Regions from separate parts of the Homo sapiens genome. Here region 1 is reported to be linked to region 2. Evidence: microRNA targets listed by miRTarBase, many of them from high-throughput screens and not tested one by one. Region 2 holds a microRNA gene; the other region holds the end of a gene's coding sequence.
Evidence for each region. Region 2 holds the annotated microRNA hsa-miR-4664-5p (UGGGGUGCCCACUCCGCAAGUU, at 3,076-3,097, opposite strand). A microRNA usually pairs through its seed, bases 2 to 8, with sites in the 3' UTR of a target mRNA and lowers its output. Matches are read on the target gene's strand: a 7mer-m8 pairs with bases 2 to 8, a 7mer-A1 pairs with bases 2 to 7 and ends in A, and an 8mer does both.

Region 1: miRTarBase lists PRRC2B as a target of hsa-miR-4664-5p. Seed matches in the 3' UTR shown: 7mer-m8 at 2,640-2,646, 7mer-A1 at 2,457-2,463, 7mer-A1 at 1,915-1,921 and 7mer-A1 at 446-452.

Annotation. Positions count from the first base shown.
Region 1 is chr9:131,494,769-131,500,126 of GRCh38, reverse strand. It overlaps PRRC2B (proline rich coiled-coil 2B), which reads right to left. Exons shown (of 32, transcript NM_013318.4): 32 at 1-4,387. The coding sequence ends at 4,253. It also overlaps the pseudogene LOC124902290. Among named protein-coding and RNA genes, the nearest start is that of POMT1, 5.5 kb to the left of the region's middle. RefSeq lists an enhancer at 1-111.
Region 2 is chr8:143,730,048-143,735,405 of GRCh38, forward strand. MIR4664 (microRNA 4664) reads right to left here and starts at 3,106; the gene lies at 3,036-3,106. FAM83H (family with sequence similarity 83 member H) reads right to left here and starts at 3,732. Exons shown (of 5, transcript NM_198488.5): 1 at 3,644-3,732; 2 at 89-550. The coding sequence starts at 535. It overlaps IQANK1 (IQ motif and ankyrin repeat containing 1), which reads left to right and starts at 4,092. Exons shown (of 14, transcript NM_001381874.1): 1 at 4,092-4,172. RefSeq lists a silencer at 2,585-2,795 and an enhancer at 2,672-2,966.

The DNA.
Region 1 (5,358 bases), not on the chromosome of region 2:
TATTTGAAAGGAGAAACAATAGGTACTGAACCGGAGGGAAAGGGCGAGGGTGAGTGTGCCAGCACCGGCCTGGTGAATCCACGATTCGATTTCCCATCCAAGGTAAGTTTCCCAAAATACCGTATAAACAAGCTGCACATTACACCTCTAGCCATCGTCTGCCCTTTCAAATATCTGGTCTACATGGAAAGACAAAGAGGAAAGGCCAAAACATAAACAAAAGGAAACAAAAACAAAACACAACCCTCTCAGGAACCAAACAAAACCCCCAAATCCTTTTTTACTACACAAGGCATGAGGTCAAAAGCTTGAGTACAGTGTCCCCTTTAGATCACGGGAGAAAGGCGTCCACACAGAGCCTTAGCAGGAATTTCCACTCTGAGGCTTCAGAACATGCTGAAGATGGGGCTCTGAGGGTGCCACTACCATCCTGGAGGCCACCAAGTGGGGTGGAAACAGTGAAGAGCAGGTCTCACATGCCCGAAGACCACCAGCCAACTACACATTGGTGGCCCTGGTGGAGCATGGCTGGGCGACAGCGTCCATCCCCAACACTGAGCCACTCCTGTCCTGGATGACTTCCTGCTTAGGTCCGTCACATTTCAGAAGAGAGCTGGCTTTCTGGAAGCCTACGTTTCCCATTCATCACAGAACACGACAGAGTGCACACATCCTGGTATCCTTGGTCTTCAAAGGCCATTTCCAGCAGACCCTCTAACCCAGGCTTGTTCTGCAGGAAGTGAAAAGGGACAAATGAAGATTTGAGGGGCAGCCTGCAGCTACTTGGCACAGGGGAACCAAATGGCAAGGGAGAAGGCTCCACCAGAGCTGCCATGCTGCCGTAGCAGGCCAGACCACAGCATGGCTGTGCACCTGTGTGTGCTCAGCTTCCAGAAGCTGTCACTGACCATCGCGAAGGCAGATCCAGAAGATAGGAGGGTGACAGCACGGCTGGAGAGCACTGATGTCAACGTTTAACAAGGTTCCCCAGTGTCCCTAGAAGTGGCTGGAAGGACCACAGCTTTGGAACTGAACTGATTTTCTTGAATGTGAAATAAAGTCATCTTTTGTTTTCCCCCTTAAGGAACCTAGAGCCAGAGTGTCTATGAATTCCAAGTTTGAAAACAATATGAATGTTTAAAAAAAAACAAAAAACGCTGTGGGGAGAAGCCAACAGTTAAGAAAACCAAACCAAATGCAGCTGGCATTGAAGTCCCCAGTGGGTAGATGGGCATCTGAGATGTATACCCACACTCTGGACTTCATCCCACTCTAGTGGATGGTGGACAATACCGCAAGGCCACTGGTGGCTGAGCAACGAGCCGCATCCCCAGTGACCAAGGCAGAGCTGCCAGCGTCAGGAGGGCAACTTTAACAGGCAAAAGTGAGTGGGTTCTGACCCCCCAATCCCTACCTCAGCAGCAGGAAAGGGAAGTGCTGGTCTCCACCTGTTCCCACTAAGGCCCCGTGGTATCCTGGCAGAAGCCTCTGCATGTATCTGCGCTCTGAGGATGGGGGTTTGAAAACAAAATAAGACCCTACGTCCTACTACCTTGAGCTTGGCTCTAAAACCACGGGAAAGGAAGAGATATATTGCACCTTAAAACATCTCTGCACTAAGAACTGCATTTCATTAGACCAAGGAGGGGTTGGGGCGCTGGGAGGCCTGAGGCCTGCCCTCAGCCCCCCAAGTCTCATTTAAAACCTGCATCTCAGCGAAGAGACTGCAGCTCAGGTCACACACAGGTGGTGACTGCACCGAACTTCACATGCAATTTCCTGGCCTTTCCTGCACAGAATTAATTCAGACATTATATATAAATAGAGCAGTGAAACATTTACTTCTTTTTTTTTCACCTAGACCTACAACATCAATACATATAAATAAATTCTAGTGTTTTTTGTTTTTTTATTTGGGGTGGGGGAGGAGAAAGGAAGGAAATACCAGGTAAGAGAAAAGGGCTGGAGAACAGGTGACCTTTTTGTTTTTATTTTTTCTCAAACAGCAAGTACTGTGGGTCTGATACCAGGTTCACCTGAAGGGTACATCTTAACAGCATCCAGAAGGCTTTCTTTTGACAAATCACACGCACCACCGCATCAGGTGGGAGGGGTCTGGCCATGCGGCTCAAGTGTCCAGGTGGAGATGAATGTGTGGCTCCCGCAGGCCTGAACTCACCCAGGAATGGCTTGGCAAGGAGGGCCGGTGGGGACAGAGAGGGCTCATCCCAGGCCCCACAAGCAGCCGCTTGCAGTGGGAGAAGGAAAAGCAGACAAGAAGCTCAGGTAGGGAATGCCTGGAACTGTCGGGTGGGCAGCCCCTGGGGAAGGGACTCAAGCATAAAGGCTTGGGATAAAGAGGGAAAAGACCAGGTGAGGGCAGGAGGGGAGCTGCTGAAAGATGCAGGTGAACAGTAAAGCACCTTTCAGTAAAACTGCCCTTTCCCAGGCAGCTCTGGGGTGGGCGCTGTTGGTAGGAGGCCGTTCTCCCGCTTCCTTAGAATTGTGAGAGCAGTAAGAAGTTACTTCAGCAGTTCCTAAGATGCTCCTTCCCCATGTTCTACACTAGACACAGAGCTTAGAGCCCAAGCCTGAGCGCTGTCCTGCACCCGTGAGACGCTGAAGGCAGCCTCTGGTGGGGGGTGCATCCCCGGCCCCCTCCTCTAGGTGTTCTGAGCCAGCCTCCTCTGGAGGAGGAGGTAGACGCTCAGTGACCCCTAAGAACAGCTGAGAAACCTGAACTGTCCCCTTCCCTTTCCTTGGAATGACAGAATCTGGAGTGATTTCCTTGTTTCTTACTTAAAAACAAGCCCAGCACACGATGGCTCACACAAGCCTCTGGCTGGAGAAGCTGCCCTCCCGGAGGCTGCGCAGGCCCTTTGGACCTTGGTCAGCCCTCCACCCAGCCTCACCCTGGACCTGCCCCCGCCGTCTGAAGACAAACGAGACTGATGCCTACTGCTTAGCTCAGGCCCTCCTGTCCTGACAACCTGGGTCTGCTGCTGGGAGTGAAGCAAAGGAGGAAAAGGACAAACTCCCAGTGGCCTCACTTGGGGACCACACACGGGTCCACTCCCTCCATCACCAAGTGGTGTTCACGATGAGCTGTGTGGGAGGTGGAGACAGGTCCAGAGAAAGCAGCAGGCTCCGGAAGAGGAAGGAAGGAAAATGACAGGTTACAGAAGGCTTCAGGGAAAGAAATGTGTGAAAAACACAGCACCCCTGCAGGGCAGGGTATGGAGCCCCAGAAGCAGAGCCCACGGGGCCTGGGATGGGCCTGTGGTATGTCAGCTCACCCCATCTGGGCCAACCTGGGAGCCACCAGCAGCCATCTCCATGATTTGTCTCTGGTGCCCAGCACATCCACTGGCTTTAGAGGAGCCCAGGACAGGGACCCTGTGTGATTCTCATGCTAAAACTGTCATCAACTTCATGGGCTGCCTGTAAGCGCCCTGGGCTCATCAAGCCAGGAGCTGGAACCCAACTATGACCCCCCCCCTCCCCCAACCTGCCTGCTGCTCTGAGCACCCCATCGCTTCCCAGGCGGGGAGCCAGGCACCAGAATGCTCGCAATCGGTGCCCTCAAGAACCTCCTTTTCTTTTTGCAAATAACCTCAAGGGTGAACCAGCTGAGGAATCAGGAGGGGATGCATTCTTAAGAGTCACCTCTTAAGGTACTGCAGTGACGTATCAAACTAAACAGGACAGAGGCTAGAGATGGAAGGGAGCGGAGGGGCTGGCAAGAAACATATAAAAGTTCAGCTATACACATGGAGCTTGCGTTTTTGTTTTCTTTTCCTTTCCCCTTTGTAAAAACCTTGGCTACATTTTAAAACAAAAAGCCTCAAAGTAAAATGACCCTGCTGCCAAATCACTGTGCCTAGGGATGGGCGGCTGGGCCGGAAGCACTGCTGAGAAGGCGCCCTGGCTGCGCGGCAGGACAGGGAGGAGGCAGGGAGGGCAAATCTGCACTGCACAGGAGGCGTCACTCCACAGTCACGGTAGGAGCAGATGGGATGAAGGAGTCGTCTGCTTTTTTGTTTCGTATCAAAGCAAGCGGGTCAATGCCATATATCCACGGGTGCAAGCTGGTTGACAACGGAGCTTTCGGGAGTGGAGAGGAGGGAGGTCTCTCAGTCTGGGCCACGCATTTGGACGGTGGATCTGGTGAGGCTCCCGAGTGTCGGCTGTGTCGAGGCCGCATGGCGGCACCGTCCTCAGTAGGGAGAGGCGAGGTGGCAGCCAGGCACTGTCAGGCCTTACTCTCCTCCACTTTGACAGCCCGAGGCTTGATCGCTCCGGTTCGCTTCATCTGGGAGGCAGCCGAGGGGGCCTCCTGCAGCTTCACGGCTCCCAGGCTGGGTTTCTCATCCACTCGTTGTTTTGCCTTTGGACAGATGAATGGGAAAAACAAAGTGACCCTGACGCTGAAACGTGTTTGGATACATAGTTCCCACCACTCCCTTCCTGCTCCTGAGTTGCAGGGAAAGCTCCCCTAAGTTGTCAGTCCCTTGGTTGAAGGACCAGACTTAGAAACCCCCCTCCTAGTAAGGAAAGTGGCGCGAGTGCCGTCTCTGCTCCCTCCCCATAAGCCCTGAGTGCAGTGATTCGGAGAGGCAGGAAGACACCGGGTCCTCCACAAAGAATTCCGCGATGGCACATCCCAGGGCGGAAGCAGTTCTGGTCCCAAGGCCAACTGGAAGAACCTTTTCAAATCAGTGCACCTCCTGCCCCACAGGCAAAAAAGGCCCCTTCAAGTAGATCCAAGTGCCCCCTGCACGTCTCGGAGCCCCCGACTGTCTGCTGGGGCCCTAGGCAGACTTGGCCCCCACAGATCTCTGGCCGCGATTCAGCCAACCCCCCCACCATTCCCACTCTGTAACCTTTCCCTGGGGCCCCATTCCTAGTCAGGGCTCCCCTGGTCTGTGGCTCTACACGGGGAGTGGGGTGGGGAAGTCACAGAGCAGCCAGCGCATCTGCCCCCCACCAGGTCTGAACTCTGGAAGAAAGCTTTAGAAGCTCATTCCACACAACTTTCATGACCCCTAGGGGAACCAATGAGAGCAATCACTTCCCATCTCTACCAGCCAGGCACAGTGACTGATTAAAAACCCACGTCTGAGGGGCTTAAGCTCTGAGCCCCAGCACGTTTTAGAGAATAGAGAAGAGAATAGTGCGTGCAGGAAAAGACACTGCGATGTCCTTTTCATTATAAAATGGGAAAACTTAATTTCACCTGTGCTCCCACCCAGCCAAGACAAAGATGAGACACACCACTGACTAGAACCAGCGCGCGCACCCCGGCTCCTAAAGCCGACCCCCAAACCTAACCGAGTCTCCCAGGGCGCCTCAGCCCCG
Region 2 (5,358 bases):
CAAGCTGATCATGCTCATGCATCTCCTCCACCCCCGTGCCTCTAGCCCAGGCCCCTCCCCCACTACCCTCAAGCCCAAGATGGCGCACCTGCTGGGCGGAACGGATCATCCTGCGGGCCTCATCCTTGATACTGGGGCTGTCGGGGGGCGGTGGCTGCACCAAGGTGGTCACCTCGGTGCCCTGGAAGCCGAAGGTCAGAGGCCAGCCCAAATCAAGCTCAGGCACGGCCTGGTCTGAGTTCACTGGCCAGTATGTACCCGAGGAGCCATCCATGTCCACGTCGAGAAGGCTGCCTTCAGGTGGCTCTCGGGTAACATACTGCGGAGGCCGAAGGTGTCGGCTCACATGTTCCAGCTCTTCAGGGCACAGGAAGTCTGGTGCCCCCTCGGTAGCGAGGAAGCGGCTGTAGGCCTCCGAGCCACCCTCGGCCAGTGCATCCACCGCCAGGCGGTAGTACTCTTTGTAGTGAGGCGGCAGGTACCCGGGTGCCAGTGGGTTGTCCCCCTGCGAGGAGCTCTGAGAGCGACGGGCCATGTTGGGGCCAGGGGCCTGGAGGGGCAGGGAGACACATGACTAGGGGTGGGGGCACTGGGACCACTCCTACCCTCGAGCATGGACACACTGTGGAAAGGGCCGTCAGTGACTTGGGTAGGCTGGAGTTTAGCCCATGCCCAGGAGGCCTTCCAGGGCACCAGCCGAACCAGGCTCACAGAGAGCAACCCAGACCCTAGGATGCCCCTAGCTGAGGGGACACTGGCAGAGGGCTGGGGCACAGGTATCCCAGCCCTGTCTCTCCTTTCTCTGGGAGGCTGAGGCAGGAGGACTGCTTGAAGCCAGGAGTTTGAAACCAGCCTGGGCAACACAGCAAGACCCCATCTCTACAAAAAATTTTAAACATTAGGCAGGCATGGTGGCGTGCACACATAGTCCCAGGCACTTGGGAAGCTGAGACAGAAGGATTGTTTGAGCCCAGGAGTTGGAGGCTGCTGTGAATTATGATTGTGACACTGCACTCCTGCCTGGGTGACAGAGTGAGACCACATCACTACAAAAAATAAAAATAAAACGAACCCCCCCCCCCAAATATTTCATGACTGTTGGCTTAAAGACAAACAATCCAGGCTGCATTCATCATTATAATATTCACTTTTTTCTTATTTTAAGACATTCACGGACCCCTGGCACTGTGCCTACTGGACAAGCTGGTGCCGCCCATGCTGCCCATGTGTCCGTCTCTGACTGCCTGGGAGACTGTGGGTAGGTCACTGCACCTCTCTGGCCTACCTCTACTGCACAACACAGCTGAGGGTCCACATGACACCACGCCTAGCCCAAGGTGAGCGCAGCAAACAGGGCTGTGACTACCCTCCTCCTGGAATGGCAACCTTAAGCCCCACACATAGTCCCGGGCCACACCTCCTCCCCATCCTCAGGGTTTCACAATTGGGCTCCCACAGCCCATTCTATGACCGCCCAGTCCTGGAACACTGATCCCTAGACTCCGTCCCTGTCTCCCAGCACCCCCTCCTTCCCTTGGCCTACCTTTGACCTCTTTCTTGTCACTGTCCCTCTCAGATAAAACCTCCCTGGGCCACAGCCCCTTGGTGCCCACAGGGCCCTGCAGGGCCTGCACTCCACATCGCCCAAATCTGGCTCTCCACTTGCTCAGAGTCCTGTCCCCACCAGCCCCCATCCAGGGCAGCAGGGACCTTTCCAGGTCCTGGGCTCGCCACCACCATCCATGCTTGGCTGCCCCACAGCCCACTCTGTTCTCCAAAGGGTCCCTGCGGGGGCCTGGCCTCTCCAGAAAGGTGTCAGATGGGGAGCGCCCAGGGCCCACGCACACAGGGTCACTGAGCTACCTGGGTACCTCTCCCTGGAAGGAGAGCCCTAGGGACTGCTCAGTCCATCCCACTGCTCCTCGGGTTGGGGAGGGAGGCAGGACACCTGTCCCCGCCTAGCACACAGGTTCCTGAATGTTGGCCCTGGCTAGGAAGGTGCCCAGAGGAGCGTGCCCCTGGGCGCTGACAGGATGGATGCCGGCCAGCTGGACTACATGGGTGCTAGCCGGAGCCACTTGGCTGAGAATGTTGGGGTCAGGAGGCAGCCGTCCTGCCTGGTGCCCCTGGGGGTGACATGGAGTTGAGACATGGGAAATACCTGGTGCCACTCAACAGCCCTAGATGCCAACCGGCTTGGGAGAAGCTGTCCCAACATTTCTTTGTTGGGGCACCGTCCTCATGGTTGACATATGGGGCTGGTTAGGGCACACCGCTCTGGTTGTGCCAGGGGCAGATCGAGGCCAACCACATGGGGGTGAGGTGTAGGCCTGTCTGGCTGGGCCGAGGAGCCCACTCACCATTGCCAGCCTGTCTGTAGGGGCGGTGTCTGACCATACAGGGCAGGGGGAACAACCCTGCTGATGTTGTTTGAGGGTACTTCCCGACACTGGGGGGACACTCTAGAAAGGACCCCCACTGTCCCTTTGGATTTCAGTGTCCAGGCTCCAGGCTGTGTGTAATGGGGGCAGGGACCATCCAGACAGTGGAAGCCCCCGTGGCCAGGAGCCCTCCCAGCAGACATGCCTCGTCCTCACAGGGTGATGCCCAGACCTCCAACTGCTTCATTCCTCACGTCGTCTCCTTTCATGGGTACGTGTCTCCTGGGCTATGGACGGGGCTGCAGCCACTCCCGAGCCCAAGATGGAGCACCCCAGTGGCCTGCATGCCCACACATTTGCCTACCAAACGTCTGCCCAAGGGAGGGAGGGCGCGGAACCCACCCATGGGCAATGACTCAGCACGAATCCACTCTTCTGCTTGCTGACCCCTGACCTCTGACTCGAAGTCAGGGCCCTCAGCTGGCCTTCAAGGACCCCATCCTCTCCACCCTGGCAGGAAGTGGGGTTCCTGAGTATCTGGAAGGAGGACCCCATGGAAGGATCTGGAGTTCCTACACAAAGTGGGGTGAACCTGTGCCAAGTTCCGATGGGCGCAGGAGGGCGCGGAGGCTCTAGGCGGCGGAAAGGTGGGGTGCGGAGGACGGGGCTCACAGACCGGAAGTCGCTCAGTGATAACTTGCGGAGTGGGCACCCCAGCCCCCAACGGGGTCAGTGCACCCTACGAGCTCGCGGCTGCGGCCGCTGGGTGCCCTATCCGCCCACCCCAGCCCAGGAACGTGGGCGCGAGGGGCAGCACTCCCATCACTCGCCCTGCTCGCCACGCGGGGATCCAGGCCGCACCCTGGCCACCCCAGTCCACGGCGGCCCGGGCGGATGTCCCCAGGGAAGGGTCCAGGCCGTGCCCAGCACCCAGACTCCAGCTAGGCCGCGAGGGCGGGAGCGAGTCGGGACGGCCGGGCAGGCTCGACCCGGATCCCGGGCCCCTTCCCCCTCGGCTCTTTTCGGGCCGGCGTCGTGCGGGGGCGCTCGCGTCCATATCCGCACAGCGGCGCCCCCTGTCCGAGCAGCCCCGCCACCCCGGCCCCGCGCACGCGGCCGCGCTCCACTCCCACCGCCCCTCTCTGGGTCGCGCGGCCCCGGCCCAGGTGTGGGCGCAAGGGTAGCCCAAGTGGGACCGCGCCAAGGGGCGCCCGCCCCCCGCCTCGCCCCGCCCCGCTCGGGCCGGGGGAGGGGGGCCCTACCTGGCCAGGTGCGCGGGGTCTCGGCACAGGGGCAGCAGGAGCCGACCGCCGCCCAGCGGCCTCGCGGTCCGGTCGGTCCGGCAGCCACTCCCTGCCGCGGCCCGCCCGGCCTGATTCACGCGCCCGCCCCCGCCCCGCCCGTCGCTCCTGCCTCCTGCCTGCCCGGGCAGCACCTGGGGGCGGGGCAGCCCCACCCGCGGCGCGCCCGCATTCCTGCGCCCCGCGCCCGCCGCCAGCCCCAGCCCGCGCCCCCGGCCCGCGCCCCGACCCGCCCGTGCCCTGCGGCCGCGCGCCCGGAGACCCCGGCCCAGCGCCGCCGGAGACCGTGAGGCCCGCACTTCAAAGACCCCGACCCCCGGGAGCCCAACTGTTGACCCAAGGCTCAAAGTTCCCAGCCTGACCCCTGACCCTCGCCCCGGAAGTCGGGGTGACTCGGAAGTTCCGGCTCAGTCGCTAGGAAACGAGCGAGCCCGACGCCAGGGGCGGAGCTCTGGCCTCCTCGCCGAGTTGGGGGAGGCAGGTGCGACAGGTGAGGACGGTGGGGCGGCGTCGAGCCCCGGGCGGGGCCGGGTCTGGGAGCCCCGAGAGCACAGGGGATCCCCTCACCACACACCGGTCTCCCACCGCACCAGCGCCCCACACGTAGACGAGGACCCCGCCCACACAGAGGACCCCCAGACCCCAACCCCCACCACACACACTGATGCCCACAAGTACCTGGGGTCCCCCATCTTTCTCCCTCACCCCCTCACACCGATGCCCACACTTGTAGGGGACTCTGCCGCAGTGACCCCCCCATGCACATGCGGACCCCGAATGACCTGTGCCTCATGTACACCAACCCCCAAGCACAGGAGACTCCTCAGGAAGACAGAAGCCACAAGCACACCGAGTCCTGCCCATGCCAGTCACCCACGAACACGCTGACATCCGCACACCTAGGGAACCCCACCTGCATATGAGATTTCTCAGACACCAACCCCACACACAAACAGGGGATGCCATATTCACACTGACTCTGAGAGCACAGGGGACCTCCCTCACATACGGAACCCTGTGTACACACAGGGACTCTGCAAAAACCAAGCCCCAACGGACAAGGGACCCAGTGTGCACACCAAGCCTCATACCAGACGCCCCCCCATGTACACAGCAACCCCCACACACCACCCCGAGCTGCCCCTGGGTGCTCCAGTCCCCCAGGTCCCCCTCAGGCCCTCACTTAGGGCCCCTCCCCCTCTTAGGCCCTGCCCTACACTGGATCATCTGTCCAAACCACCACCCCTCGCCCCTGCCACTCCCACCCCAAGGACTGGCCCTGCCTCAACCCTTTCTGATGGTCATCAGTCGCCTTTCTCTTTGTTCCTCTTGCCATGTGATCCTATTTTCTGTTTTCAGGGTCAGTCCCAGTTTCATTTGTTCTTTCCCCAAACACTCAGTGCCACCCCACTGGTACCAGCATGCTGGAAACATGGGTGGGGGGTCAGACCAGTGCCCAGGCAACTGTGCTGCAGCGGGTGAGGGGCATGGGGCACCGGGGAGGACCCGGACAGGCTGGGGCAGGCAGGAGGAGCCTCCCAGGGAAATGAACTTGGGGGTCAGCTGTGTGGACTAGGGAGAGGGGTGTTGCTCCAGGGCCTGACACCACCATCTGCCAGAGCCGGGACCACATAAGGTCTGAGGGTGTGGAGGGGTGAGTGCCTTGGGTGGGCTGG